3 separate regions of the Homo sapiens genome follow, and regions 1 and 2 are each linked to region 3. The links come from fine-mapping of genetic effects on gene expression. A gene starts in region 3. Each other region holds a variant in brackets. All regions are shown on one strand. Distances are between the middles of the regions.

Evidence for each region. PIP is the estimated chance that this variant, and not a neighbour inherited with it, causes the effect.
Region 1: its variant is the best candidate, but not a certain one, in a credible set for the expression of TMEM59L in cerebellar hemisphere (GTEx, PIP 0.52).
Region 2: its variant is the best candidate, but not a certain one, in a credible set for the expression of TMEM59L in cerebellum (GTEx, PIP 0.57).

Annotation. Positions count from the first base shown.
Region 1 is chr19:18,712,653-18,723,127 of GRCh38, forward strand. All of the region lies in intron 1 of CRTC1 (CREB regulated transcription coactivator 1), which reads left to right. Among named protein-coding and RNA genes, the nearest start is that of CRTC1, 34 kb to the left of the region's middle. The variant C/T (reference allele first, on the strand shown) is at 3,513.
Region 2 is chr19:18,701,299-18,711,773 of GRCh38, forward strand. The region is part of intron 1 of CRTC1 (CREB regulated transcription coactivator 1); the gene reads left to right. Among named protein-coding and RNA genes, the nearest start is that of CRTC1, 23 kb to the left of the region's middle. RefSeq lists enhancers at 1-8, 8,512-9,506. The variant C/A (reference allele first, on the strand shown) is at 5,795.
Region 3 is chr19:18,608,155-18,618,629 of GRCh38, forward strand. TMEM59L (transmembrane protein 59 like) reads left to right here and starts at 4,716. Exons shown (of 8, transcript NM_012109.3): 1 at 4,716-4,975; 2 at 5,718-5,862; 3 at 5,950-6,041; 4 at 7,821-7,973; 5 at 8,846-8,948; 6 at 10,001-10,118; 7 at 10,221-10,338. The coding sequence starts at 4,805. RefSeq lists an enhancer at 5,909-6,429.

The DNA.
Region 1 (10,475 bases), 100 kb after region 3:
ATCCTCCCAAAAAGAGAATCCCCTTAGCCGGGTGCAGTTGCCCATTCCTATAATCCCAACGCTTTGGGAGGCCAAGGCGGGCAGATCGCTCGAGGTCAGGAGTTTGAGACCAGCCTGGCCAACATGGCAAAACTCTGTCTCTACTAAAAATACAAAAATTAGCTGGGCATGGTGGCATACGGCTGTAATCCCAGCTACCTGGGAGGCTGAGGCAGGAGAATGGCTTGAACCCGGGAGGTAGAGGCTACAGTGAGCCGAGATCGTGCCACTGCACTCCAGGCTGGGTGACGGAGCAAGACTGTCTCAAAAAAAAAAAAAAAGACCCCACCCCCTATCCCCATCAGCAGTTACTCCCCGTTCCCCTCCCCAGCCCCTGGCAGCCAGCAGTCTGCTTCCTGTCTCTATGGATTTGCCTGTTCTGGACATTTCAGATCAATGGAATCTCACACTATGTGGCGTTTTGTGTCTGGCCTCTCTCACTCAGCATCGTGTCTTCAGGCTTCTTCCACGTCGTAGCATGGATGAGTGCCTCATTCCTTTCCATGGCTGAATAGCATTCTGCTGTATGGATGGAGCACATCTGGCTGAAGCACATTCTGCTGTATGGATGGAGCACATTCTGTTCAGCCACTTGTCTGTTGATGGGCATTTGGCCTGTTTCCACCTTTTGGCTGTTATGAACAGAGCTGCATGGACATGTGTGTTGCAGGGTTTGTGTGGACACTGTCTTCAGTTCTCTTGGATCTATACTGAGGACTGGAATTGCGGGATCCTGCAGTGACTCTGGGTTTAACTGTTTGAGTAGTGGCCGGGCTGTCTTCCCGGAGTAGACCAGTTTTCTAAGCTCCTTTTCCTTGTTCTCTGCTGTGCCCCTTCTGTGGGAGCTGAGGCCCTGCACCCTTAGGCGTCCTCCTCGTGCCCCTCCTCCCTCCAATGTTACTGGGCCTGTTGTTGGGGTCTGTAGTGTTTCTGTATGGCTCTGCAGAGGCCAGGCTCACCGCCGGTTGGCCTTAGCTCAAGGTCCAGGTTCGTGTTGGCTGGGATTCCTGCCCAGGTCCATTTGGAATATTCCACTTGCGCGTGAAGCAAAGGCCCAAGTATATGAAGTGGCGTGCCCAGGCACAGAGCCCCTTTCTGTACACCCAGCTGCACGCGCGGGGAGGAGCTGACATCCCAAAAGGCCACGCAGAGGTGGGAGCTGGAGGACACAGCCCTGCAGTATCTGCTGGGGTGAGCCCTGCACCACTGGCAGCCCGCTCCCCAGCCTGGTGGGTAGGGCTGTTTTGGGAGGGCCTGCAAGTGTGGAAACCTACACTAAAAATAGCAGCCACATGCCTCCTGTGGGCGGCCCACGCTCACCTCTCCTGGCACCCTAGCGTGCCCGGAAGCAGCAGGGTGGGAGGGCACACCAGGCCCCACACAAGCCCATACTGTCCTTACACGTATGCATGAGGCTGGGTGAGCCATGCACACCCAAGGCCACCCTCCACAGCCCTGTATCCCATGCTAGGGTTTGGGGTGCCCCAGAAATCAGGAATCAGAATAGCTCCATTTGCAGGAAGACATCACAGCACACATGCAGCCATGATGCAGCTTCCCCAGTGGGTCCAGGCGGGCGCACTCCATCCACCTGCTATTCGGTTTGCAACAAAACTAACACTCTTTTTTTTTTTGAGACGGAGTCTTGCTCTGTCACCTAGGCTGGAGTACGGTGGTGTGATCTTGGCTCACTGCAACCTCCGCCTCCTGGGTTCAAGCAATTCTCCTGCCTCAGCCTCCTGAGTAGCTGGGATTACAGGTGTGCACCACCACGCCCAGCTAATTTTTGTATTTTTAGTAGAGAGCGGGTTTCACCATGTTGGCCAGGCTGGTCTCGAACTCCTGACCTCGTGATCCGCCTGCTTTGGCCTCCCAAAGTGCTGGGATTACAGGTGTGAGCCACCACACTCGGCCTAAAACTAATGCTCATTAAACAGACAAGGGCAGCTTCCCGTCCACTGGTCAGATGTGGCTACTGGCCAGCTTGTGCTGTGATCCCCAGAAAGGTCTCTCCAGAGCATTCTCATTTCAGCATGGCAGGTTAGGGATTGAGGTGTCGTTCTCACCCCCAAATGTTGATGACCCCCGGGGAACCTCCAACCCTGTGGCCACATCCTGCTGTCTGCACCCTGAATATTTGGGCCTATATGCTCCCTTGCCCTCCCTCAGCCCTTTGGAGGGCCTCTCCTGCCCCCACTGGGCTCTGGGGCCTGCAGTTCCCAGCCTGGGCTTCGGGAAGGATTTCCGTGCCTGTTCAGGGACCTTTCAAGCACAGTTTTTATTATTGTCCTGGGGCTGCCACTACAAATGACCACAAAATCTGGTGGTTTAAGAAACAGAAATGTATACTCTCCCAGCTCTGGAGGCCAGAAGTCCAAGATCAAGGTGTGGGCAAGGTTGACTATCTGTAGAAGCCTCTAGGGGCGGATCCCTCCTGCCTCTGGGGGCTCCCGGAGCTCCTTGGCTTGTAGCCGCATCACTCCAGTCTCTGCCTGTCTTCACATGGCCTGTGTGTCTGCATCTCTTTCCCCTTCTCCTCTCTTTTTTTTCATTTGAGACAGAGACTCGCTTTGCCACCCAGGCTGGAGTGCAGTGGTGCGATCTCGGCTCACTGCAACCTCCACCTCCCAGGTTCAAGCAATTCTCCTGCCTTAGTCTCCCAAGTAGCTGGGATTACAGGTGCACGACACCACGCCTGGCTAATACCCCTTCTCTTCTCTTCTAAAGGCCCTTGCCATTGGATTAGGGCCCACCCTACTCCAACATGACTTTAACTCAATTACAGCTGCAAATACCTTATTTCCAAGTAAGTTCCCATTCCAGGTGCCAGGGGTCAGGACTTGGACATACTTTTCTGGGAGTACGTCCCACAACAGAAAGTAAGTACTGTGGTGCAGGCCCCATGCCCAGCAGGGAGCTGCAGCCTCCCCTCAGCCACCTGTGGCCCCGGGGACGGGCCTGTCCTCCCCTCTTCCCCTGCTTCTCAGTGTGTGGACATCATGATGCTTTTGCTTTCGTCATTTGTGTGATTGCATCTTGGAACCAAGTGCTGTTTGCACGTGCAGGTGGGCTCCCAGGCAGGGGGTCTCTCTGAGTTGGCCTGTTTGGAGGTTTGTCCCAGCCAAGGGGCCCACCTGGCTGAACCCACCCTGCTCAGGGCTGCATCCTGTTTCCCTGTTGACTTTGCTGCAGCCCACGCTCCTTCCTGCCACTGCTTGTGGTTGGCTGCTGTTTGGAGCTGTCCCCGGCATTCCTGCACCCGAAGCCTGGGACAGGTGTACGCTTATGTGCTGGCAGCGGTTGGCGGGGGGGGTGTCGCCAAAGAGCGGGGATGCTGAGAATGGTCCCCTTGCTGGGCTGCAGGTGGGGAGGGATGCCTCCGGGATTCCCAGAGTCACTGGTGGCATGTGCCCCCCGCTGCCCTGCCCAGTGCCCCGCCCTGGGGACCCTGTAGTGAGTGCAGCAGCCACAGC[C/T]CACCCTTGTTGGGGGCTGTGGTCTTAGGGTGGGGACATCAGCCTGAGGGTCATTATTGGAGGTGGGGCCAGAATGTGGCTCCCGAATGACTCTTTTTTTTTTTTTGAGACGCAATCTTGCTCTGTCACCCAGGCTGGAGTGCAGTGGCACGATCTCAGCTCACTGCAGTCTCCACCTCCCAGGTTCAAGCAGTTCTCTGCCTCAGCCTCCCAAGTAGCTGGGATTACAGGCGTCTGCCACCACACCCAGCTAATTTTTGTATTTTTAGTAGAGATGGGGTTTCACCATGTTGGCCAGGCTGGTCTCAAACTCCTGACCTCATGATCCACCCACCTTGGCCTCCCAAAGTGCTGGGATTACAGGTGTGAGCAACTGTGCCTGGCCGGCTCCTGCATGACTCTTAGCCCAGGTGCAGCCCAGCAAGCATTAGCGTGTGGAGAGCCCAGCGGGCATTAGTGTGTGGAGAGGGCATGGCTAGTATAGGGGCTAGCGAGTAGAGCATGCTGTGTCGTCTTTCCTGTAGAGCTGGAGTGACCTGCTCAGGTGGGAAGTTTGGAGAGACTCCAGCTGAGTGGTTTGGGCGCTGCAGGGTTAACTTGAGACCCCAGTAGGAGGCTTCTGTATTTGTCCAGGCAAGAGAAGATGTGGCTTGGGCCAGAATGAGGACAGAAGAGGCGAGAGGGCAGAAGAGGTGCTGGGACATGGGGGAGCCAGGTGGGGCATGGGGGGTTCCTAAGGAAGGGACAGGTTTGGGCAGTTGTGAATGTGCTCGTGTGTGTGCAAGTGAGTGGGAGCTGGCGTGCAGGCAGGACAGGAGTGCAGGCAGGACAGGAGTGTGAGCATGTGTGTGTGCGTGTGAGCATATGTGCATGCACGTGCATGAATGTGTTTATGTGACTATGTGCATTGCTGTGAGTGTGCACACATGTGGCTGGGTGCATGTGTGTGAACACGTGTGATGTCTGTACAGCCTCCCTGGTGGGTGACTGGCGCTGGGCTGGAGACATGAGTTTGGGGAGCTTTGAGTGAGGGGTGATGGTGGCACTCCCAGGGTGGGGCTGAGAGGGGGCTGCTGGGCTTGGGAGTGGAGGGCCCAGGGGAAGTCTTTCCCCTAGCACCCTCTCCCAGGGTCTTCAGGCTGTGTGGGAGCCAGGACTGGGTCTGTCTCCTTGTGGCCTCTGTCCTTGGTGCAGTAATGACCACTGGGTAGTGGCCCTTGGGGTCAAGGGCATCCCTGGAGCCCTTGCCATAGATGCTGAGCTGGAGCAGGGCTGCCACCCCATACTGTTCAGGGGCCAGTCCCTCCCCTCTGGAGCTGATCACCCCAAACACTGTCCCCTCAGAAGGGTCGTAGTGCTCACTCACAGGAGCCTGTGTTTCTGCCTGTGTGTGGGGCACTGGGGCCCAGAGAGGCAGACACAGATGCGTGCAGCCACCAGCTTGGATGCAGGACCCCTGGGCTCAAACACTGCCTTCCAGTCTCAGCCTACAGTGAGTATGGGCGGGGCTGGAGGATGCAGCTCAGAGAGGAGGGTGCAGGGTTCCGGGGTGGGCCAAATGCCGGGTGGGAGCAGAGCAGGGCCGCAGGGACATGGGAGGGCCTCTCGCAGGACGGTTTCTCATGCCAGCCCTGGTCAAGGCAGCAGTGGTTTCCAGACACGGGGGTGCGTGTGTGAGGCAGGAACAGTACAAGCAGAGGGCCCCTGGGGAGAAGGCCTTTGACAGCAGGAAGAGGACCTGGCAGTAGGGACAGGAGTGAGGGAGAAGAAAAAGACAGCAGGGCCTGGGCAGCCCCGTCACGGGGCTGGCTTTGAATCTTACTTATCTATTGTTGAGGTGAACACCACATAACATAAGATTCACCATCTGAAAGTGAACAGTTCCATGGCGTTTGGCGCATTCACAGTATTGTGCAGGCATCACAGCTATCTAGTTCCAGAACATTCTCATCATCCAAAGGAGACCTTGTCCCCATTAGCAGTCCCTCCCCTCCTCTCCTCCCCAGCCCCTGGCAGTTACTAATCTGCTTCCTGTCTCTGTGGATTTGCCTGTTCTGAGCATTTCAGATCGATGGAATCTCACACCCTGTGGCCTTCTGTACCTGGCTTCTCTCACTCAGCATCACATGTTCAGTTTCATCCACATTGTAGCATGGGTCAGTGCTTCCTTCCTTTTTTGTTGTTCCTCTTGAGACAGGGTCTCACTCTGTCACCCAGGCTGGAGTGCAGTGGTACGATCACAGCTCACTGCAGCCTCCACCTCTTGGGCTCTGTCCAACCTCCCACCTCTGCCTCTCGAATAGCTGAAATTATTGGTGTGCACCACCATGCATGCCTGGCTAATTTTTTTTTTTTTTTTTTAGAAACAGGGTTTCACCATATTGGCCAGGCTGCTCTCAAACTCCTGGCCTCAAGGGATCTTCCCTCCTCCGCCTCCCAAAGTGCTGGGATTACAAGTGTGAGCCACCGTGCCCAGCCTTCATTCCTTTTCATGGCTGAATCTTATTCCACTGTATGGACAGACCAGTCTTATTCATTCATCCCTTGGCACACACGTGGGTTTTCCCACCTTTTGGCTGTTGTCCATTGTGCTGGTACACACACTCATGTATGATTGTCTTCATTTCGTGGGGGCATCCGTCCAGGAGTGGGATTGCTTGGTCATAACAGCAGCTCAGCATGTCACTTGTTGAGGAACCGCCATACAGATTGGGGGTTTATTTTAAATAGGATGGAAGCCTACTGGTGTGTTTAAAACGGGAGCATAACACGATTTGAACTGAATGAATAAAGAGAAGAAAATGAAGGAGTCTCGGCAGCCACTTGCAGAGGGAGCAGGGAGGCCTGGGAGGAGGTCACGTGGGTGTCTGGGTGCGAGATGACACGGGCTAGTACCAGGGAGGGGGCTGACGATGGGCCCTGGAAGTCGAGCTGCTGGGAAGTGATCATGGGAGTGATGAGGCAGGCAGAGGAAAGGGACACCTCCAGCCTCTGTCCCTGCTTCTTCTACCCTGGCGGGCGCAGCCTCCAACTAGTGACCCCTCCTCTGGGCTTGGTCCTTCCCTGCATCGTGTGTGTCTGCTGGGCACTCCAAATGTGGTGCCTGGCCCCGCTAGCCCAGAATGCGGCCTGAAGATGGTGAGACAGGCAAGGGCTAACCCCACCGGGTCCCCAGGGCCTGCAGCAGGTGCCACCTGGGGCCTGGCTAGGAGTTCAGGGGCCTGGGTGAAGCCTTTGGGACAGGGCTGTGAGGGCACTCAAGGGGTACCAGGTGGGCCCCGGCAGGCCCAGGATCTGGCCTTCCAAATCACAAAATGACTTTTGGTGTTATGTAACTCCATAGTCAAGCTATGTCTAAAAAATGGAGCATAAAAGCTATTTTGGGCCCATGGTAATGAGGGCATCTCGCCTTTGTCTTAGCCGTCCTGGGGGGAGGCAGCGTCGAAAGAGCTGCTCAGAGAGGCGGGTTCAGCCCAGACCCCAAGCAAGCCCTGTGTCAGCAGGCAGATGCCGTTTTCAAAAATCATTTGTTCCGCCTCGACCGGAGGTGGCTCCTGGCAGATCGCCCCGCGGTGCTCAGAATCCCAGAGGCCTGCGGGCGGCTGACCCGGGGCGAGCAGGGCTGGGCCTCCTCTGCCGTGTCTGGGATCTGACTTCCCTGAGGTTAGGTCCGGCACCTGTCAGAAACCAGGCCTGACATTTTCAAGATGGGCACAGGCCCGCTCCGGGAAGGCCCCAGGCCCGTCCATGTGGGCAGCGTCGGCGTCGGGCTTCTTGCCTGGGACCCAGGGGCCGCTCTTGGGGAGGGAGACCCTGTTTCAAGTGGCCAGCATCCCCGCCAGTGGTTTGCATTATTCAATTGGTGATAAGATTTAAAATTAAACTGCAAAGGATCTGTTCCCCCAGCTACAAATAGACGTGTGCTTGCACATTCCAGAACACAAGTGTGCACCAAGAGATGTGTTTTGAGTCAAGGTGGAGAAAAAGTGAGTTTTTTTGTTTTGTTTTGTTTTGTTTTTGAGATGGAGTCTCACTGTCTCCCAGGCTGAAGTGTAGTGACGCGATCTCGTGTCACTGCAACCTCTGCTTCCCTGGTTCAAGCAATTCTCCTGCCTCAGCCTCCCGAGTAGCTGGGATTACAGATGTGAGCCACCACACCTGACTAACTTTTGTATTTTCTTTCTTTCTTTCTTTTTCTTTTTTTTGAGACAGTCTCGCTCTGTCACCCAGGCTGGAGTGCAGTGGCATGATCTCGGCTCACTGCAAGCTCCGCCTTCCGGGTTCACGCCATTCTCCTGCCTCAGCCTCCCGAGTAACTGGGACTACAGTCGCCTGCCACCACGCCCGGCTAATTTTTAGTGTTTTTTTTTTTTTTTTTTTTTTAGCAGAGATGGGGTTTCACCATGTTAGTCAGGATGGTCTTGATCTCCTGACCTTGTGATCCGCCCGCCTCGGCCTCCCAGAGTGCTGGGATAACAGGCGTGAGCCACCACGCCCGGCCTAACTTTGGTACTTTCAGTAGAGACGGGGTTTCATCATGTTGGCCAGGCTGATCTCGAACTCCTGACCTCAAGAGATCCACCCACCTTGACCTCCCAAAGTACTGGGATTGCAGGTGTGAGCTGCTGCACCCGGCTGAGTTTTGGAATTCCCTCTCTTTCTCTCTGCTCATGTACACTATGTGCACGCATGCATGGGGCCCTCTCTGCCCGAGTACACTGCCTGCACACATGCGTGGGGCCTTAGTCCTTCCTTTCCTGTTGGTGGCTGTAACAAATGACCACAAACTGGGTATCTTAAAACAATAGAAATGTATTCAGTGCAGGTGTCGGCAGGGCTGGTGCCTGCAGGAGGCTCTAGGGGAGGATCCTTCCTGCCTCCTCCAGCTTCAGTGGCTCTAGGCGCTCTTTGCATCACTCCAGTCTCTGCCTTCATTGTCATGTGGACACCTCCTCTCACTGTGTCTCTTCTCATCTTCTGAGGATGCTAGTCATTGGATTTAAGGCATACCCTACTCCAGTTCAACCTCTGTTTTTTTTTTTTTTTTGAGACGGAGTCTCGCTCTGTCGTCCAGGCTGGAGGGCAGTGGCGCGATCTCGGCTCACTGCAAGCTCCGCCTCCTGGGTTCACGCCATTCTCCTGCCTCAGCCTCCCGAGTAGCTGGGACTTCAGGCGCCCGCCACCATGCCCGGCTAATTTTTTGTATTTTCGGTAGAGACGGGGTTTCACAGTGTTAGCCAGGATGGTCTCGATTTCCTGACCTTGTGATCCACCCACCTTGGCCTCCCAAAGTGCTGGGATTACAGGCATGAGCCACCACACCCGGCCTTTTTTTTTTTTTTTTTTTTTAAACAAGGTCTTGCTCTGTCGCCCAGGCTGGAGTGCAGAGGCACAATCATAGCTCACTTCAACCTCTGCCTCCTGGGGTCAAGCGATCCTCCCACCTCAGCCTCCTGAGTAGCTGGAACTACAGGCGTGATCCACCATGCCCAGCTAATTTTTGTATTTTTAGTAGAGACGGGGTCTTGCTATGTTGCCCAGGCTGGTTTCAAACTCCTGAGCTCAAGCAATCCACCTGCCTCAGTCTCCCAAAGTGTTGGGATTATAGGCGTGAGCCATGCACCTGGCCTCGACCTGCAAAGACTCTCTCCAAATACAGTCACATTCATAGATGGCGGGGTTAGGACATGGCTATGTGTTTCCAGGGGACACAGGCAACCCACAGCAGACATTCTGCCAAGTCCATCATCACTGGCCCTTACTGAGGTCCCCCAGCCTCCTCTGGGTCTGCCCAGGAGGTGCTGTGACGTACTTCACCCCATGATCCAGCACATGGGAGTACCTAGGTCACCGTGCAGCCGGGGTCTCAGCAGAGGCCGGAGTCTGCCCTGAGTCACCAGAGGCTGTGGGTTTTGGGGATATGCACCAGAGACCCCCACACCTATGCATCCGCTGACTAAGTTCCAGATGAGATTCATCCCAGCCTTGCTGCCATCCTGCCATGGGGAGCTTGCAGCCCTGAATGGGAGACGAGAAAACATGCCAAGCAGTTATCAACTTGTCTGGGGCCCCTTGGCTGGGGAGAGGAGACCTGGGGTGTGGACGCAGGCCACAGGCATGCCAGGTGCCTCCCAGCTGGCTTCAGAGATGCTGGGGGAGTGGATTGGAGAGTATCCCCCAGACATATGCGCCCATGTCCTAAGTCCTGGAACGTGTGACTCTGGCCTTATGTGGAAAAAAGGTCTTTGGGGGTGTGATGAAGTGAAAGACCTTGAGATGAGATCGTCTTGGATTTAGGATTGGCCCCGAATCCCATGACTGGTGTCCTTATTTAAAGAGGAGAAGACACAGGCACACAGCGAGAAGGCCACGTGATGAAGGAGGCAGAGACCAGAGTGATGCGGCCACAAGCCAAGGAGGCCAAGGACTGCTGACGGCCACCAGTTTTTGAATGGACATGATGTTCACATAACATGAAATTAAGCATTTTAGAGCATGCCGTGGTGGCGTGTAGCACACTCCCAGTGCTGTGCAACCTTCCCTTCTGTCTGCGCCCAGAACATTTCCATCTCCCCAGAGGGAGACCTCACCCCGCAGGTAGTCACTCCCCATTTCCACTCCCAGCCCCAGGCAACCACTAATCTGTCTCTGTGGCTTTGCCTATTCTGGATATTTCATATCAATGAAAATCTGACACCATGTGGCCTTTTATGTCTGGCTTCTGTCACTCAGCATCGTGTTTTCGAGGTTTGTCCATGCTGTAGCATGGATCAGTGCTACAGTCTTTTTTTTTTGAGACAGGGTCTTGCTCTCTTGCCCAGGCTGGAGTGCAGAGGTGCAATCTCGGCTCACTACATCCTCTGCCTCCTGGGTTCAAGCGATTCTTCTGCCTCAGCCTCCCAAGTACCTGGGATTACAGGCATGGGGCACCACTCCTGGCTAATTTTTGTATTTTTGGTAGAG
Region 2 (10,475 bases), 93 kb after region 3:
CTGTAAAAAGGGGGTGCTCACAGAGCCCCCTTGAGGAGTCGTCACATGGATTAGATGATGCATCCACGCAAAGTGTCTGGCCCCGTGCCCGGCCCGTGGTGGGTGCACACCTTGAAAGATGCCTGCTTGGCCGAGGCCAGCTGTTGAGCTGCTACTTGGGGCAACAGTGAGAGCAGGATCGCACCTTGTTCACCTCTGTGCCTTGGCCCAGAATATGACAGCTGCCACTGTGTGGCTTATGGGTCATCTGTTTAGTTTCACCTGAGGGAGTATTCATTGCTGTTAACTGTTTCTTATGAGATAGGATTTTTGTTTTTTGTTTTTTGAGACAGAATCTCACTCTGTCACCCAGGCTGGAGTGCAATGGCGCCATCTCAGCTCACTGCAACGTCCACCTCCTGGGTTCAAGCGATTCTCCTACCTCAGCCTCCTGAGTAGCTGGGATTACAGGCGTGTGTCACCAGGCCCAGCTAATGTTTTTTATTTTTTTTGTATTTTTAGTAGAGACGGGGTTTCACCATGTTGGTCGGGCAGGTCTCCAACTCCTGATCTCAAATGATCCGCCCACCTTGGCCTCCCAAAGTGCTGGGATTATAGGCATGAGCCACCGCGCCCACCGTTTTGTTTTTTTTTTTTTTTTTTGAGACGGAGTTTCACTCTTGTTGCCCAGGCTGGAATACAGTGGTGCAATCTCGGCTCACCGCAACCTCCTCCTCCCGGGTTCAAGCAATTCTCCTGTCTCAGCCTCCCGAGTAGCTGGGATTATAGGCGTGTACCACCACACCCGGCTAATTTTGTATTGTTAATAGAGATGGGGTTTCTCCATGTTGGTCAGGCTGGTCTTGAACTCCCGACCTCAGGTGATTTGCCCGCCTCAGCCTCCCAAAGTGCTGGCATTACAGGCGTGAGCCACTGTGCCCAGCATTTTTTTTTTTTTTTGAGACAAGGTCTGGCTCTGTTGCCCAGGCTGGACTGCAGTGGTGTGATCTTGGCTCACTGTAGCCTCAATTTCCTGGGCTCAGGCAGTCCTCCTGCCTCAGCCGCCTGAGTAGCTGAGACCATAGGTGTGTACCACCACAGCTGGCTAATTTTTAGTATATATTTTTTGTAGAGACAGGAGTCTCCCTGTGTTGCCTACGCTGGTCTCAAACTCCTGGGCTCAAGTGATCCTCCTCCTGCCTGGGCCTCCCAAAGTGCTGGCTTGAGCCCCATACCTGGCTTCTTAGGGGATAGTCTTTTTTTTTTTTTTTTTGAGATGGATTTTCGCTCTTGTTGCTCAGGCTGGAGTGCAATGGCACAATCTTGCCTCACCGCAACCTCCACCTCCCGGGTTCAAGCGATTCTCCTGCCCTCAGCCTCCCGAGTAGCTGGGATTTCAGGTATGCGCCACCACACCCGGCTAATTTTGTATTTTTAGTAGAGGCAGGGTTTCTCCATGTTGGTCAGGCTGGTCTCGAATTCCCAACCTCAGGTGATCCACCTGCCTCGGCCCCCCAAAGTGCTGGGATTACACAGGAGATAGTCTCTTAGACTTTGTGAAAAGTTTTGGAGATAGTGCAGGGAATACCCATAACCCCCCACCTGTTTCCCACATTGTGAACATCACACGTGACCTGGTTGCGACGGCCGGGCTGGGACCTCCAGTTGTCACAGTTCTTTTTTTTTTGAGATGGAGTCTCGCTCTCGCTCTGTTGCCTCAATTTCCTGGGCTCAGGCAGTCCTCCTGCCTCAGCCTCCTGAATAGCTGAGACTCGGCTCACTGTAAGCTCCACCTCCTGGGTTCACGCCATTCTCCTGCCTCAGCCTCCCGAGTAGCTGGGACTACAGGCGCCTGCCACCACGCCCGGCTAATTTTTTTGTGTGTATTTTTAGTAGAGATGGGGTTTCACCTTGTTAGCCAGGACGGTCTCGGTCAGGATAGAGACGGGGTTTCACTGTGTTAGCCAGGATGGTCTCAATCTCCTGACCTCGTGATCTGCCCACCTTGGCCTCCCAAAGTGCTGGGATTACAGGCGTGAGCCACCGCTCCTGGCCCAGTTGTCACAATTCTATTAACTAGACTCCAGACTGTGTTTGGATTTCCCCGGATTGCTCCTTTAAGCACCTTCTCTGGACAGGGTTGTGTGTTGCATTTATTTACTTACGTATTTATTTATGCATTTATTTATTTATTTATTTATGATAGAGTCTTGTTCTGTCGCCTAGGCTGGAGTGCAGTGGCACGATCTCAGCTCACTGCAAGCAACCTCCACCTCCCAGGTTCAAGCGATTCTGGTGTCTTAGCCTCCCAAGTAGCTGAGATTATAGGCATGCACCACCATGCCCGGCTAATTTTTGCGTTTTTAGTAGAGATGGTGTTTCGCTGTGTTGACCAGGCTGGTCTTGAACTGCTGACCTCAGATGATTCGCTTGCCTTGGCCTCCCAAAGTGCTAGGATTATAGGTTTGAGCCACCGTGCCTGGCTAATTTTTGCATTTTTAGTAGAGATGGGGTTTCACTATGTTGGCCAGGCTGGTCTCGAACTCCTGACCCCAAGTTATCTGCCTGCCTTGGCCTCCCAAAATGCTGGGATTGCAGGCGAGAGCCACTGCGCCTGGCAACGTGTTGCATTTAGTCAAAGCATCTCCTTTGATTCCTCCAATCTGTGATGGTTCCTCAATGTCTCCTCATCATCCGTGACCTTCACTCTCTTGAGGAGAGCTGGTCAGGTGTTTTGTGGAATGTCCTTATTGTGGTCTTGTGGAGGTTTTCTGGCAATTGGACTGAGGTTGTGGGATTTTGGTGGGGATCCCACAGAAGTGAAGTGCTCGTTTTCTTTTTATATTTTTTCTTTTTTTATATTTAAAATAGGGATCTGCCTGTGTTGCCCAGGTTGGAGTGCAGTGCTCACTGCAGCCAGGAATTCCTGGGCTCAAGCAATCTTTCCACCTCAGCCTTTCAAGTAGCTGGGACTACACCATCATGCCTGGCTTTGTTTTAAAATTCTTTTGTAGAGACGGGGGTCTTGCCATGTTGCCCAGGCTCAAGTGATCCACCCTCCTTGGTCTCCCAAAGTGCTAGGATTACAGGCGTGAGTCACCATGCCCAGCCTTTTTCTTTTTTTTAAAGTTAGTAAAATACACATAACATGTGGCCAGATGCGGTAGCTCTTGTCTGTAAGCCCAGCACTTTGGGAGACTGAAGCAGGTGGATCACCTGAGGTGAGGAGTTCGAGACCAGTCTAGTCAACATGTTGAAACCCCGTCTCTATTAAAAATACAAAAATTAGCTGGGTGTGGTGGCAGGCGCCTGTAATCCCAGCTACTCGGGATGCTGAGGCAGGAGAATCGCTTGAACCCTGGAGGCAGAGGTTGCAGTGAGCCATGATCGCACCACTGCACTGCAGCCTGGGCAACAGAACAAGACCCTGTCTCAAAAACAAACCAAAAACAAAACAAATACACATAACGTGTAAGTTACTGTCTTAACCTTAAGTGTGCAGTTCAGTGGCATTTAGTAAGTATCCTCACATTGTTTTGCAATCATCACCACCATCTGTGTTCAGAGCTTTTGCATCTTCCCGCACAGAAACTCTGTCCCCATTAAACACTCACCCACCCACCCCCTACCCCCCAATCCCCAACCCCCACCCTCCTACTACCCTCCATTCCCTCCCAGCCCCTGGCAACCACCATCCTATTTTCCACCTCTATGAGTTTGACGACTCCAGGGACCTCATGTAAGGAGAATCATCCAGGATTTATCATTTTGTGTCTGGCTTATTTCACTGAGCATAATGTCCTCAAGGTTCGTCCACGTTGTAACGTGTCAGAACGTCCTTCCCCTCTAAGGCTGTTATTCCACTGTATGGATGGGACACATTTTGTTTATCCGTTCATCTGTTGATGGACATTTGGCTGGTTTCACCATTTGGCTATTGTGCGTAGTGCTGCTGTGAACATTGGTGTACATCTCTTTGAGTCCCTACTCATAATTTTTTTGGGTATATTCCCAGACATGGGATTGCTGGATCATGTGTAATTGTATGTTTAATTTTTTTTGAGACAGAGTTTTGCTCTACCACCCATGCTGGAGTGCAGTGGCGTGATCTCGGCTCACCACATCCTCTGCCTCCTGGGTTCAAGCGGTTCTGCCTCAGCCTCCCGAGTAGCTGGAATTACAGGCGCATGCCACCACACCTGGCTAATCTTTGTGTTTTTAATGGAGATGGGGGTTTCACCATGTTCGCCAGGCTGGTCTCGAACTCCTGACCTCAGATGATCCACCTGCCTTGGCCTCCCAAAGTGCTGGGATTACAGGCGTGAACCACCACGCCCAGCCAGCATGTTTAATTTTTTGAGGAACTGCCACACTGTTCTCTGTAGTGGCTATACCATTTTATGTTCCTACCAACAGTGTATAAGGATTTCAGTTTCTCCATATCCTCAATAACACTTGTTATTTTCTGATTTTTTGATAATAGCCATCCTAATGTCTACTAATATTTACTAATCCTAATATTTTTTTTTTGCAAAAAATGATATTTTGATAGGGATTGTGGTTTTGGTTTGCATTTCCCTAATGATTAGTGATGTTGAGCATCTTTTCATGTGCTTCTTGGCCATTTGTCTGTCTTTGGAGAAATGTTTATTCAAGTCCTGTGCCCTTTTCCTTTTCCTCTCTCTCTCTCTTTTTTTTTTTTTTTAATGCTTTTTAGTATATTCATACTTTATCTATTTTAAATTGGGTTGTTTTTCTTTTTGCACTTGGAGATCCTGTTTTCCCAGAGCTATTTGTTGAAAAGACCATCCTTTTCCCATTGAGTAGTTTGGCACCCTTGTTGAAAATCACTTGACCATATATGTGACAGTTTATTTCTGGGCTTTCTATTCTATTCCATTGGTCTTTTTTTTTTTTTTTTTTTTTTTTTTTTTTTTTTTTTTTTTAGACAGAGTCTTGCTCTGTCTCTCAGGCTGGAGTGCAGTGGTGCAATCTTGGCTCACTGCAACCTCCTCCTCCCGGGTTCAAAGCGATTCTCCTGCCTTAGCCTCTTGAGTAGCTGGGATTACAGGTGCCCATCACCACACTCAGCTAATTTTTGTATTTTTAGTAGAGATGGGGTTTCACCATGTTGGCCAGGCTAGTCTTGAACTCTTGACCTCAGATGATCCCCCCCGCCTTGGCCTCCCGAAGTGTTGGGATTATAGGCGTGAGCCACCACATCTGGCCCCATTGGTCTTTATGTTTCTCTTTATGCCAGTATCACACTCTTTTGATTACTGTAGCTTTGTAGTTAAGTTTTGAGATCAAGAAGTGTGAGTCTTCCAATTTTGTTATTCTTTTTCAATATTGTCTTGGCTATTTGAGGTTTTTTGAGATTCTGTATGGATTTTAGGGTGGATTTTTTTCTATTTCTGCGAAAAAGGATATTTTGATAGGGATTGTGGTTTTGGTTTGCATTTCCCTAATGATTAGTGCTGTTGAGCATCTTTTCATGTGCTTATTGGCCATTTGTCTTTGGAGAAATGTTTATTCAAGTCCTTTGCCCTTGTTTTTTAGCGCTTTTTAGTACATTCACATTTTGACTATTTTTAAATTGGGTTGTTTTTCTTTTTGTTGGTGGGTTGTAAGAGTTCTTTATATAGTCTACATATTGATCCCTTATCATCTATATGATTCGCAAATATTTTCTCTCATTCCGTGGGAATGGGGCCTTTTCACTCTGTTGATTACGTCTTTTGATGCACAAGTGTTTTTAATTTTGGCAGCATCCAATTTATGTATTTTTTCTTTTGTTGCCTGTGCTTTTGGTGTC[C/A]GATCCAAGAAATTATTGCCAACTCCAGTGTATGAAGCTTTTCCTCTGTTTTCTTCCAAGAGTTTTATAGTTTTAGTATATATAGTTTTAGCTTTTATGGTTTTAGTTATAGAGTTACAGTTTTAGTTTTTTACTTTTATAGTTTTAGCTTTAGATCTTTGATCCGTCTTGAGTTAATTTTTGTATATGGTGTTAGATCAGGGCACAGCTTCATTCTTTTGCATATGGAGATCTTGTTTTTCCAGAGCCGTTTTGTTGAAAAGACTGTCCCTTCCCCGTTGAATGGTTTGGCACCCTTGTTGAAAATCACTTGACCATATATGTGAGGGTTTATTTCTGGGCTTTTATTCTATTCCATTGGTCTTGATGTTTGTCTTTATGTCAGTACCACACTGTTTTGATTACTGTAGCTTTGTAGTTAAGTTTTGAAATAACAAAGTGTGAGTCCTCCAATTTTGTTATTTTTCAAGATTGTCTTGTCTATTTCAGATTCCTTGAGATCCCATATGGATTTTAGGGTGGATTTTTTTCTATTTCTTCAGGAAATGGTATTTTGGTAGGGATTGCATTGAATCTAGACTGTTTTGGGTAGTATTGCCACCTCTGAAATATTAAGTTGTGGCCGGGCACAGTGGTTCACGCCTGTAATCCCACCACTTTGGGAGGCCAAGGCAGGAGGATCACTTGAGCCCAGGAGTTCAAGACCAGGCAGAGCAACGTAGTCAGATCCTGTCTCTATTTAAAACAACAACAACAAAAAGAAGTCACACTCTCCTCCTCCCAGCTATGTGACCCTGGGCAAGCCCATAATTGGCCCCTGCCTCAGTTTCCCCATCTGTAAGATGTGCCATGAAGGGGGCTAACTCTGTCAATGCATGAACAGTCCTCAGGACTGTAGCTTGCACAGGTAGTGCTCCATGAAGGCAGCCATGTCTCCTGGGAGGGCTGCCTGGAGGAGGAGAGCTCTGCAGTGGGACATTAGGGGTGAGGTCCGAGTTGCCGGTGCAAGAGGTGGGTAGGGAAGGGAAGGCTCTTTGGGTGGAGGAGAAACAGCATATATGGGGCCCAGAGGCCTACAGGAGGCAGGGAAGGAGGAAGGAGAGAGGAGACCCAGATCTGGAAAGGCCCAAGAGCCAAGCTGGAGAGCTTGGACGTGATCCCACAGCCAGCTATGGGGTGGGGAGGGGTGACCCAGGATCAGCTTTGAGCTTTAAGAAAGGCTAGAGAAAAGGTGGTGGGGTTGGAGAGGAGAACAGGGAAGGGAGTTGTGGGTTCTGGAGGGGCTCAGGAACTGCAGAGGAGAGGTGAACCCAGGGTGCCCGAGAGAGGAACGGGGCCACCCCGGGTTTCTGGCTTCTGTATCAGCATCAGGAAGATCATGGCACTGTCTGCCAGGGCCAGGTGAATTGGGCACGTTGGCTGGGGGAATCGGGACCATGACGAGCCTGGTGAGGGGCTGCTGGGCTGGAGGAGTCTCCTGGGGCATCACAGGGAATGTTCTGGAAGCAGGGCTGGGGCGGCACTTGGGAGTTAGCTGACAGTAAGGAGTGACGTGAGAAACACAGAGGCCAAGTCCTCGGGGAGCCAAGTTTGAGAGGCAGACGGAGCGTGGGGACCGAGGTCAGGGCTCCTGTGGGGCCGGCCTGGCCCTTCCCTTCCCACCGCCGTTCGGGACCCTGTGGTATCTTCCGTGGGCACTGGCCCTGCTCCCAGCTGAGCGGTGCCCAGAAGCAGGAGGACCCTGGTTTCCTGCCCCTACTCAGCCACCCTGCCCACGCCGTGGCAAGCCCAGAGCTGTGCTCAGTTCAGGCAGCCGTGTGGCCACCCTGGTGACTCCTCCCTGCCGCTCCCTGCTGTCCTGTCCTCCGTGGGGTGCTGTCTCTAGGCCCGGGAGGAAGGCTGAGGGGAAGGCCTCATGGGTGCAGTGGGTAAATGTCCACCCGGTACCTCCTCTGAGCCCGCATGGTGCTCGGAGGTGCAGGGTCCCAGGGCTGTTTCTGGAGCAGCAGGTGCCAGGCATGGCATGGGAGGGGCCTTGTGGAGCCCAGAGTCGCAGGTGCACCTGGCAGTGGGCAGAGCAGCTGCAGAGGCTTGGTGTTGGCAGGGTGCACATGAGGAGGTGGTAGCCAAGGGGACAGGGCCTCCCAGCCTGGTGCCCGCAGCCTCCCTCACACAGGGACCACCTTTCCCCTCACCTGGCCCCTCATCCTCTGTCCTGATGTCCCCTCATGGTGCCTTTTTATGCCCACCTTGCCCCCACACGTAACCCTCAGGCAGTGGGAGAAGGGCTGCAGCAGGGGGGTGTGGCTCCTGGTGCAGGGGACAGGCCAGGTGGCAGGAGCCAGGACAGCTTCAGAGGGAGAAGCCTCCAGGCCCAAAATGGGGCCTAGACAGGAAGGAGGGAGCGGGCAGGTTAAGAAGGGCAGTATCTGCATGGGGCTGAGAGGGAGCAGAGAGGGCATCTGAGGGTGGCTGGGGGCTGTGTCTGAGCAAGGCCATGGATGGGAGTTGGGATGAGCCTCTGTACCTGCGGACACCCCTGCTGAGGTCCTCTGGGAAGCCGGCAGTGCACCTAGGACTCCACCTGGGGGAGATGGGTCCCGTCTGCCCTGGGCGGGCTTCCTCATGCTGGGACCCCAGCCTGGAACGCAGCCAGGATCAGGAGCCCTAAAGTTAGGACCTGAGGGCTCCGAGGGCTGAGGCCGGGGACAGCTGCCTGGCGTTCCCTGCCGTGGATGGGCTGCTGCTCCCATGTTGCCTGCCCTGCCCTGGCCCATCAGTCCTGCCTCCTCCAGCAGCGGTGACTTTGCCACAGGGAGGACAGCTCAGGTCACTCCTGGTTAAATCCTTCCAGCGGCTTCTCGTCCCACCCAGGATGGGGTCCCACAAAGCTCAGCTCTCTTGAGGCTCTGAGCCCAGCACCCGCCCCCCCACACTTCTTTGCCCACCCTGGCTTCCTTGGCGAGCCACTGTCATGGTCACTCTGTGACCCCAGGGCCTTTGTGCTCACGGGGCCTCCTGCCTGGAGTGCTCTTCCCAGCTCCAGCGTCACCTCCTTGGCCACCTTCCCCCCACCCCATTTCCAGCTTGTTTTCTGCACAGCCCCACTCACTCGGAAGTCTCCCACTTCCTTCCTCCATCTACCCACCCAGCTGCCCGGCCCATGCCCATCTGAGCCAGCACAGCTTGTCCTGGGCCAGCAAGGACTTGTGGCTTCCCCTGCTGTGGACTCCCCGTTCCTCGACGTCCCTCCCTGGCCTCCCGTCCTACTGCCTGGGGGCAGTGTCTGGCCAGCAGATCCTTCTTGAAAGGGACCATCCCTCTGGGTGAGCTGGACATGCAGGGTTTTCTGGGGCTGCTGGAGGGGGTGGGAGCCAGGAGCCAGTGTGAGTCGGCGGCCGGCCGGGCTCCTGGCTGTGTTGAGCTGTTCCCTCCCATGGGGGCTTTGGGTCAGAGGGTAGCGAGGGTCACACTCTCAGGCACCCTTGACTGTTTATTTTTTACATTTATTTTTTATTTATTATTTATTTATTTTTTGAGACAGAGTCTCACTCTTTCACCCAAGCTGGAGTGCAATGGCTTGATCTCGGCTCACTGCAACCTCCGCCTCCTGGGTTCAAGTGATTCTCCTGCCTCAGCCTCCCCAGTAGCTGGGATTACAGGCACCCGCCACTGTGCCCGGCTAATTTTTGTATTTTAGTAGAGATGGGGTTTGGGTTTTGCCATGTTGCCCAGGCTGGTCTCGAACTCCTGACCTCAAGCGATCCACAGCCTTGGCCTCCCAAAGTGCTGGGATTACAGGTGTGAACCACCGCGCCCGGCCTCACCCTTGACTGTTTAGGAAGCCCATGCCCAGGCTTGGCCAGTCACCCCTCTTTCTTCACCCTGTCCCACCCCACAGTGCCCCCTCCCCAGGGCTTTGTAGGCCTCCAGCTGATGGGGAGTCTGCTGTGGCCAGGGCTGCTAACAGTTAACTGCTGGATGAGCTGCAGTAAATTTCCTTGGGGTTTTGGCTCAGGGTGAGACCCGCATTCCCAGCTTTGCTTGGCCACATGCGGCATCCTAGCACTGAACCTTCCCGTCCCAGGTGGCCTGCTTCTCGGGGAGGGGCCTGGGAGGACTTCTTGTTTGGGAGTCGGGGAGCCATCCTTCCCTCCAGGCCTTGGGTCAGCTCAGCCCACACAGCTGCTGACCCAGAGTGAGGGGCAGTGGGACGCGTTGGCCTTGGCGGCCCCGGGGCCGCTTTGAAGGGGAGCATGAGGGCACCGATCCTGCGCCTCTGTGCCTGGGCCGGGCGGGAGCTGGGGATGCATCCATCGCCTGCCAGGAATCCGGGCCCTGAGTTGTCGGCACTTCCAGCGTTTCAGGAGAAGCCAAGCAATTCTGATGTTTAAGTTAACTTAAAAGAAAAAAAAAGTAAAAGTTGGCCACCAGTTTGCATTTTTAAAAAAATGCTTCTCAGACCTCAGGAAGGCCACAGCTGCGGCCGGCCACGCTCCTGCTCCTGCCTGCCAGGTTACAGGCTCTGACGTGGGCCTGAGGGCCTCTGGGCTGTAGTGGGTGGGGCGGCCGTGCTGGTCCTGGGGTGGGTGCCGGGCAGTTCCGCCCATTCCCGGCTGCGTTGGGAGGGGGTGTGTGATAGCCAAGAAGCTTGATGCCAAGGGTCTTGGATCAGCAGCTG
Region 3 (10,475 bases):
GGGCTCAGGAGCCCCCATTTGTCTGCCCAAGACTGAAGCCCCACCCTCTCCTACTTAAATCTCCAGTTCAGACTCCAGACTGTCAAAAAACAAGATTGGGGGATGGGAGCCTATAGGGGCCCAGGGCGCCCCTGCTCCATCTGAATTCTGGATGGAGAAGACAGACAAGGAGAGACGCTGCCATTTACTTCGGGAAACCAGGCCTTTTGTGCCTCAGTTTCTTCCTCTGCACAGTGGGCACCACCCAGTCTAGGAGCTTCTGTGGGAAGACGCAGGGCAGCAGAAGTCTCTACAATCCAAGCCCTTAGCACAGCACTGGAGGATATCCTGGAGCAGAGGTGACCCCCAGCCCTGCTTGTCCCCTCTGAAACATGGAGCCATAGTCCCACCTGCCAGGGGACCCAGAGGGTTAAGTGGAGGTGGCAGTCCTTGGCTGGAATTGAGTTTTTAGGATACTCACCACTACTCCCCCATGGCTCCTGTCTGCAGATGCTCTCTGTGTGGATAGAGACGCCTCACTCCCTCCTGGGAGGACTTCAGGCTTCTGGAGCAAAACCTTGATTTTTTCCTCCCTCCATTTCTGCTTCTCTTCCAGTCATTTTGGTTTTGGGAAAGGGCTCTCCCATCCATCCAGGTGCTCAGGCCAGAGACCTGGAAGCGCACGTGACAACTCTCTCCTTTGCTCATCCCTCATGTCCAATTCATCAGCAAATCCTGTTGGCTCTGATTCTAAAACACATCTCCATTCTGAGATGCTGACCCCTTTTTCCCACCCCATTCAGATCCAGGCCCCACGGTCTCCCTCAGGGATGCTTCCCGGCCTCCTCCAGGGCCTCCCTGATAACCCTTCTGCCTTTCTCGGCACACCAGGCAGAGGGAGCTTTTAAAAGAAGAAAAAGCAGATCTTTGTCCTGCCACCCTCTCGCCATCCTCTCCCCTCCTCTTCTTCCCTCTCCTCTTCCCCCTCCTCTCCCTCATTCCGCCCCAGCCACTGGAGCCCTGTTTCCCAAAACATACCAGGCTTGTTACTATAGAAGGGCCTCTGCGTGTTGGCTGTTCCCTCTGCTGGAATGCTGTTCCCCACATCTTCCCCAGTTGGCCCTTTCTCTTCCATCACTTCACAGGATTAGTGCCACCTCCTCAGAGAGGCCCTCCACCCTTCCCCCAGCACTCTCCCTCTCCTTCACTTTGTTTTATTGTTTTTGAAACACAACTCTTCCAACCATTTCATTTCTTGTGCAACTGATTTTCTTTAGACTGTGGGCAGCCTCAGCCCCTTTGGACCCCAGTGGTGGGCCCAGTGAGGGCTGAAAGCGAAGCACTCACTAAATATTTGTAAAAGTAAAGGATGGAGAACTCTTACTCCCTCCAAGTAGCAAGAAAACTCAGTCCTAGCAAGTCATGCTGCCTGGGGTCCTAGCCTGGCCCACACTCTGTGTCTTGCTGTGTGACCCTAGCCAGTAGACATCCCTCTCTTGTTCTTACCAACAGAAGGGAAGGACCATTTTCCAATCCTGCCCAGCCCCACCCTGGAGTGTGACTTCTGCCCTTGGGTGATCTTTACCCCACACCTTTGACTTCAGGGAAAGGGAATTGACCCCAGAGTGCATCCTTCCCGGCCCTTAGGGCCCCCAGAAGTTTAACCCTTTACTCCCCAGTTCCATTATCTCCTTGAGGACAAAAGGGAGCTAGCGTCAATGGAACTTCTGGCAAATATTGACCCAAGTCCTTGAAGTTGGCTGGGAATGTGTAAGGGGCAGAAGGAGGGAGGGCCTCCCCTTGGGCAGAGGGAGGGCCTCCCCTTGGGCTGGGGGAGGGACCCCTCCTTAGTCCTGCACCCTCCACTCCAAGGTCACCTCTGGATGAGAGGTATTAGGTTGGGGGGGGGGCCTCCATCCCCAGCTCCCTCGTGATTCCAGGGCACTGAGGGTGCACCAGGGAGGGGGCAGTGGAAATGGCACCTTCAGGGTCCTGTGGGGACCCACAACCACTGGGAGTGAGGAAGGCTGAGAGCTGTCTCTCCCATTCTGAAAGCCCCGTGCTCAGGGCTCCCCAGTATGGGATTAGCTACCTGGTGTTCCAGGCAGGTGCTTTCAGGAATTAAGGGGCAGTGAGGGTCTGGACACCTGGTTCAGGGTCTGTGGCACAGGAAAGTGGGGCCCGTGTGTACCTAGGCTTTATAATTTCTGCCCTGGAGGCTGAGCCTGGGGAGAAGCAATGCCTGGGTGCTCAGTGTAATGCACACTGGACTTCAGGCACTGGAGGCGGGACCTGGGGAGTTGCAGACCTGCCTAGGGGACCTGCCTGGGAAGTTGCAGGCCTGCCCCAGGGAGGCCAGTTTCCCTGCCCGTCTGTACCCTGAGAAGCCTCTGAAGTCTGGGTCCCAGGAGGCACCAGCTGCTTTAGGGGGACAGCCACATCCCTCCGTCCTCCCCCAACAACCCTCAGCAACCACCACCGGCGCCATGGTGCTCTGCCTCCTCCCTGGCCTGTACCCTGCTTGGAGGTGGGGGTCAGCAGGGTCGTGGTGAGGGCGGCAAGGGACAAAGGGTGCTTGTCCGCTGCCCGCCTTGACCTCGGCTGCTGTGGCTTCCCGGACGCCTGGCCTGCCGCTGATTCACGCCCAGGCCGGCCTCAGCGCCCCCCGCCTGCCGCCCCCAGCCAGGCCGCCCCGGGGGGTAGGAAGTGGGGGGGGGGGCGAGGGCGGCGCCGAGTCAACTTTCCCTCTTAAGCCCCGAAGGAATGTCGGCGGATTTCCTGAAACCCGACCCTGGCCGCCCGCCGGCCCTCCCGCCCCTCACCTGGACCGGCTCCCCCGGGAACAGCAGGAGGGGCGCGGGGGCTCACCTTGGGGGCCGGGGTCAAGTCCTCTTTCCGCTCACCCCCCCAGCGGCCTAGTGCAGCGGAAAGGGGGCTGGGTGTGCGGCAATCAGCCTCTTTCCCTTCTCCCCTCAGGCGACCTGGGTGATCGACCCACTCCTCCAGCCTCAGTTTCTCCTTCTGCAAAAGGGCGCGGGGTGTCCCTCCTCCCTGATGCGTTTTAAGCAATGCCCAAAGGTCACCTCCCATCATTGGCAGGGCTCTGCCGGCTTTTCTTTGCTTCTCTCCCTGTCACCTGGACAGAACCACTTTGCAGTCTGAGCATCAGTTTCCTCACCCATATAAAAGGGCAACGCTACCGGTACCTGTCTTATACGGTTGTTGCAAGAAAAAGTGTTTCGTTGGAATGAATGAAAGACAGTAATTGTGGAGGGGTTAGGCGCGCGCGGGCCTCTGGAATTAGCATGTGTGGGCTTGAATCCTGACTTTGCCAACGCGTCCCGGAGCCTAAGTTTCCCACCTGTGAAATGGGGGACAGTATTGGTCATAACGCACAGGGCTGTTTCCCAAGGTGCGGGCCTGGCGCGCGGGTGGGTTAGAAGCGGAATTCTCCTGCTGGATTCTGGCGCAAACTGCGGGCTGGAGGCCCTCGCCGCCGGGTCGCAGCGGCCTAGCATGGGAGGGGAGGGGAGGGGCGGGGCGGGGCGGGGGAGGGGCCGCACCGGGATCCAGATGTTCGGGGTCCGCCAGGCACAGCCGCGCCTGATTAAGCCACGTGGGGGCCGGCCGGGGGCCGCTGAGATGAAAGCGCGGCCGCAGGCCAGAGTAGGGGGTGCGCCGGGCCCCCACCCGGGACACCCTCTTCCCAGGCCGAAACCTGAGCCGCCCTCTAACCCGCAGACCCTGCGAGGCTGCCGCCCCGTCTGCGGGGGCGGAGCGTAGGTGGGGGACCTGCGGGCTGCTGCGCGGCGCTGCAGGCACCTGCGCCAGGCATGCCAGCGAAAGCGGGGGCATCTTTGCAGAGGATCCGGGTTTAGAGGGGCGTCCCCACTCCCTTATCTGGCGGAGAGGAAGCTGGGGGTACCCTCTAACCGAGATTCGGCTCCTGGGGCTACAGTCCATCGCCCTGGGGTGTGATGGTTATGGAAGTCAGAAGTGTCGCTATTTGCCCCGTTTTCCCATGAGAATTAGACATGTCAGCATCACCCCCTCCCCTTGCTCCTGAGCATACCTCTGTGTCCCCTCCCACTAAGCCCCAGCCCAGGGGTCTCCAGCCTTGGGGAGACAGGGCCAGATTCCCTAGGTCAGTGGATCAGGGCTGGGCCAGAGGGAGGCGAGGCTGAAGGAGCAAGGGAGGGGCTCAGAGGGCTTCCCGGAGGAGGCAAACTGCGCGCAAGTTGTCTCCTTTCTAACCTGGGTGTCAAAAGAGAAGATGCCAGGACTCAGCTGCCGGGTCCTGCGGCTCTCACCTTCCTCCCTCTCCGTTCCCTGGTTGGACTCCAGCCCCATCGCCCTCCCTCCTCCTGCAACAAGCTCTTTCTCTCAGGATCCTCGCTGATCCTTGTAGCCTGGACACCCCTTTCTCCTCTCTCCCGCGTGGTCGGCTCACACGTCGCCTCCTCCGCCAAGCTCTCCGCTCTCCTCGACACCCCTGGGGAATAGTCCCCTCCATCCCATCCCCCTATATATTTCCTTTTGGCCCCAAGCGCCAGCAGAGATCCCCCGCCCGTGGGCACCAGGGAGGTGTCCTGGGACCCCCGCGATGGGATAGACGGTGGGGGCCGCGATGCACCTGCCCCGCCCGACCCGCACGCCTCGGGTGCCGCAGCGCAGCTACCCCGCCCGCTCTCCGCATCTCCCACCCCCCGCTTCCCAGGCTGCCTCGCTCGGGTGACGTCAGCGCCCCGGTCCCCGCCGCAGCCGCTGCATCCTCCGTGCCCGGCCTGAGCTGGAGTCCCCCGCGCCCCCCGCGTTCCGCCCGGCCATGGCTGCGGTGGCGCTGATGCCACCGCCGCTGCTGCTGCTGCTGCTGTTGGCGTCGCCGCCCGCCGCCTCCGCGCCGTCCGCCCGCGATCCCTTCGCCCCCCAGCTCGGGGACACGCAGAACTGCCAGCTGCGGTGCCGCGACCGCGACCTCGGCCCGCAGCCCTCGCAGGTGAGGCGCGTGCGGTGCCAGGTGCCAGCGGGGGACGCGGGATCTCTCCGAAGGAGGAGGCGTTGGGATGGGCTTCTCTTGGATGACAGCAGGAGACTTTGGTGGGGGTGTCCGTGGGGAGGTGGGGGTCGGGAATGGGGAGATCTCTCCAGTAGTTGACGGGCTGGGGTTCCCTCTGATGGGGGAGTGCTTGGGGATGCAGGTCCTTGCGATAAGGGGCCGATACCACCTCCCGGGCTCCTTCCGCACTCTGCTGGGTAAGGACCCTCTAGCACCCAACCCCCAGCTCCCTCAGGCCTGATGGTCCCCCCACCTCATTCCTCCTCCTCCACATCGTGTTCCCTCCCCACTCAGAGCTACCAGCCCCTACTCATACCACCACTCCCCAGGATTCAAGCCTGATCTGCGTGTGACCAAAACCCCCTCCTCTGAGCCTCCCCCTCCTCCTCCAGGTCTGAGAATCCTTCTCCATGTCTCCCCTCCTCCCTGGAACCTAGTGGGGGGAAGGCTCATTTCTCTCCACCTTCACTGTCCATTTCTCTTCTCAAGCTCCCTCCCCATCTCCCTCCTCAGAGCTAAGAGCCCCCACTAATATTTGTAGCCTCTCCCAACTTCATCTCCATCTGGCTAGATGTCGTGGGGAGCGGGGAAGCCTTTCCCTGCCTCTGCTGAATGCTCCGGTCCCCCCACCCTCCTCCTGCCCCTCCCCATGGCCTGAGCCCCCTGTCCTCCCCTCCCCCAGGCGGGGCTGGAGGGCGCCTCCGAGTCTCCCTATGACAGAGCCGTTCTGATCAGCGCTTGCGAGCGTGGCTGCCGCCTCTTCTCCATCTGCCGATTTGTGGCCAGAAGCTCCAAGCCCAATGCCACCCAAACTGAGTGTGAAGCAGGTGAGGGCCCGCCGGCAGGGTGGGCCAGCGTGGGGAGAGGTGGCCTGGGAAGGGCCGTCCCCAGTCACCCGCTCCCACCTCCCACAGCCTGCGTGGAAGCCTATGTGAAGGAGGCAGAGCAGCAGGCCTGTAGCCACGGCTGCTGGAGCCAGCCCGCGGAGCCTGAGCCGGAGCAGAAGGTGGGCCTCCCACTGCGGCCTGGGGTCCCTTTTCCCAATACCCCCACCCTCTTCACCCCGTGGGAAATCTTCATTCACGTGCAGAGGCTCTGCCAGACTCTGCGTTCTATACCAGGCCTGCAGGGCAACCTCCATCCAGCCCCGTCATGTCTCCAGCCTTAGTTACATGCAACAACGCCCCCCATGCCCCACCACCTTTTCAGGAATAAGTGGCAGAAAACAGCCATCATTTATCAAACATCTGTCCTGGTTCGGGCCTGACTTCAACCTGTCCCAAATGTTTTTGTGTCACTTGGAGGCACAAAGGACAATGTCACCCCCATTTAGTGCCCAGGGGGCAACCTCCCAGGTCATACACAGGGCTGTGCAAGGGGCGAGATTTGAAGCCACCAGAGCTGTGGCCACTCCTCACCTCACTCCTCTTAGGCGCCCCCAGAGCTGCCAGGTGCTGGTCTAAGCCCTTCCCCTGTGATGAGCTGGTGGTCACTGTCACCTGGAGGGGCTCAGAACTGCGGCTCAGGGTAGAGCAGGCTTGCCTCGCAAGCACGCACACACTGCCTTATGGGAGAAATAATAACGGTTCATCTATTGTAGTCCAAGCAATGCTGCATCATGGGGAAACTGAGGCACAGAAAATCATGTAGCATAGCCAGAGACCTAGGGGCTGGGACTCCCCAGAAAGCCCTTTCCCCACTTCCCCCATTTTCCTCCACCCCTTCCCAGCTTTCACTGCTGTTCAGAAAAGCTCACTGCACTGTCAGCCCTTCCAATTCAGAGCTCCCTCTTATTTATTTATTTATTTTTTGAGATGAAGTCTTGCTCTGTTGCCTAGCCTGGAGTGCAGTGGTACAATCTTGGCTCACTGCAGCCTCCGCCTCCCGGGTTCAAGTGGTTCTCCTGCCTCAGCCTCCTTTGTAGGTGAGATTACAGGCACCCCCCACTACAATCGGCTAATTTTTGTATTTTTAGGAGAGACAGGGTTTCATCATGTTGGCCAGGCTGATCTTGAACTCCTGACCTCAAGTGATCTTCCCACGTCGGCCTCCCAAAGTGCTGGGATTACAGGCATGAGCCACCATGGCCGGCCATCAGACCTCCGTCTTGACGCTGTCAAAATAAGAATAATGAGGATGATGATATTTTTAGTAATAGGGACTACTACGCATTAAGTGCCTGTGCCGTGCCAGGCACCTGGCAGGCATCCTCTAGTTGAAATTTCATGGCTACTCCATGAAGGAAGAGAACGATACCCATTTTAGGGCTCAGAGAGCACAATCCACTTCCCTAAGGGTACACAGGAAGCCAACTGCCACGCTGAGATCTGTGTTCACTATAAGAAGTCCTATTGGCCCAAATCACTTAGCCACATCCAATCCAAGTGAATTCTCCTAGCTCCTCTCCTGTTAGTTTATTTATTCATTTATTTATTTGAGATGGAGTCTCACTCTTTCACCCAGGCTAGAGTTCAGTGGTGTGATCTTGGCTCACTGCAACCTCTGCCTCCTGGGTTCAAGCAAATCTCCTGCCTCAGCCTCTGGAGTAGCTGAGATTCCAGGCGTGCGCCATCATGCCTGGCTAATTTTTGTATTTTTAGTAGAGACAGGGTTTCACGATGTTGTCCAGGCTGGTCTCAAACTTCTGGCCTCAAGTGATCGGCCTGCCTCAGCCTTCCAAAGTGTTGGGATTACAGGCGTGAGCCACCACATCCTGCCCCCTCCCATTCATTGGTTAATGCCCTATTTCGGTGCCATCTTTGTGTCTTGGACCTTTTTTCACCAGAGAAAGGTCCTGGAGGCTCCAAGTGGGGCCCTCTCCCTCTTGGACTTGTTTTCCACCCTCTGCAATGACCTTGTCAACTCAGCCCAGGGATTTGTCTCCTCCACCTGGACATACTACTTGCAGACTGACAATGGGAAAGTGGTGGTGTTTCAGGTGAGACCTCTGACAGGGGCCACGCCAGAGTGGCAGATGGGTGGGCAGGGTAAGAAGATGGGATGCATTGGCTCTTAGCTCATGAGATGCAAAGTCCACAGTGGGCGAGCTTCAGGCACAGCTGGATCCAGGGGCTCAGTGTCTCACTCCATGCCTTGACTCTGCTTTCTTTTGTGGTGGCTTCATTCCCAGGCATTTACTTCTTCTTGGCAGTAAGGTGGATGCCAGAGGCTCTAGGTTACAAACGCTGTGGTTTTTTTTTGTTGTTGTTGTTGTTGTTTTGAGATGGACTCCCATTCTTGTTGCCCAAGATGGAGTGCAATGGCATGATCTTAGCTCACTGCAACCTCCACCTCCCAGGTTCAAGTGATTCTCCTGCTTCAGCCTCCTGAGTAGCTGGGATTACAGGCGGCCACCACCACACCCACCTAATTTTTGTATTTTTAGTGGAGACGGGGTTTCGCCATGTTGGCCAGGCTGGTCTCGAACTCCTGACCTCAGGTGTTTCACCTGCCTCGGCCTCCCAAAGTGCTGGGATTACAGGCATGAGCCACTGCCCCGGCTCCCTCTGGGGTTTTAACTGAGCTGGGATTTACTCTGATTGGCCCTGGCTGGATCATATGACCATCTCTCAGGCAATTCACTGGCTTGGTCTGGATCATGTTCCTACTTCTGGAGCTAAAGGATGGGGTTAAGGCAAATGGAGGAGCCCATGAAAGCAGAAAACAACATCCCTGACATCAAGCCCACCCCTGATACCCAGGGGAACTGGGTATCAGCTGGGCGTGGGACATGGCAGTCACAGAGGGCCTGCCTGGGCCCAGGGGTGCTGTTCTCACAAGCCTCTCTGTGCTGTCTTGTTCCTGGCCCAGACTCAGCCCATAGTGGAGAGCCTCGGCTTCCAGGGGGGCCGTCTGCAGCGCGTGGAGGTGACCTGGCGAGGCTCCCACCCTGAAGCCCTGGAGGTGCACGTGGGTAAGGTGCAACCTAGACCAGTGTTCCTTCCATGGGTGGCCCCACTGCCACAAGGAGTCGGCCTGGCAAACAGACCTTCTAGGATCGGGATCTCCATCTCTCAAGTCCTGGGTTCCATGGCTCATCCCCCAGGTCTCCATGGTCTATTTCCCAGGGTTCCATGGTCCACCTCCCAGGGTTCCATGGTCCACTTCTCAGGGTTCCGTGGTCTACTTCCCAGGGTTCCGTGGTCCATCTCCCCGGGTTCCATGGTCTATTTACCAGGGATCCGTGGTCCACCTCTCAGGGTTCCGTGGCCCACCTCCCGGGTTCCGTGGCCACCTCCCAGGGTTCCGTGTTCCGCCTCCCAGCGTTCTGTGGTCCACCTCCCAGGGATCCATGGTTCACTTTCCAGGGTTCTGTGGCCCATCTCCCTGGGTTCTGTGGCCCATCTCCCAGGGTTCCATGGTTCATCTCTCAGAGTTCCATGGGTTCATCTCCTAGGGTCATCTCCTAGGGTCCATCTCCAAGGGTTCTTTGGTCCATCTCTCAGGGTTCCATGGTTCATCTCTTAGGATTCTGCAGTTCATCTCCCAGGGTTCTGTGGCCCATCCCCCAGGGTTCTGCAGTCCATCTCCCAGGGTTCCATGGTCCATTTCCCAGGGTTCCATGTTCCATCTCCCAGGGTTCCATGTTCCATCTCCCAGGGTTCCATGGGTTCATCTCCTAAGGGTCATCTCCTAGGATCCATCTCCCAGGGTTCCATGGGTTCATCTTCTAGGGTCATCTCCTAGGGTCCATCTCCTAGAGTTCTTTGGTCTATCTCTCAGGGTTCCATGGTTCATCTCCTAGGATTCTGCAGTTCACCCCCAGGGTTGCATGGTTCATCTCCTAGGATCCATCTCCCAGGGTTCCATGGTCCCTGTCTCAGCATTCTGTGGTCCATCTCCCAGGGCTCTGATCTCCATTCCAGGACTCTATGCCCCAGGTCCTGACCTCCTCCCTCCTGGTCATGGTTATTGTGGCCTCTTAGCAAAGACCTGGTGGTCGCTGAGTGGCAGCTGATCTCTCAGACCCTGTAGGCCCCCTGGACAAGGTGAGGAAGGCCAAGATCCGAGTCAAGACCAGCAGCAAGGCCAAGGTGGAGTCTGAAGAGCCACAGGACAATGACTTCCTCAGTTGCATGTCCCGGTGGGTGGCAGGACCTTGGGGGTGGGAGGGGGGTGGGACTGGAGGTACGGGTCTCCCTGGTCCCGGCCTGGGCAGCTGAGTGGTGCCTGCCGGGCGGGGCAGGCGCTCGGGTCTGCCTCGCTGGATCCTGGCCTGCTGCCTCTTCCTCTCCGTGCTGGTGATGCTGTGGCTGAGCTGCTCCACCCTGGTGACCGCGCCTGGCCAGCACCTCAAGTTCCAGGTGGGTGGGATCTGTGAATGGCGCTGGGCCGAGGGAGGGGGTGAAGGCAGAGAGAGCTGTTTGCTGGTCCTGGATTTGGCCACCTGCTCCCATGGAGGCCAGGACCTCAGACATTTTTTTCTTTTTTCATGTATATA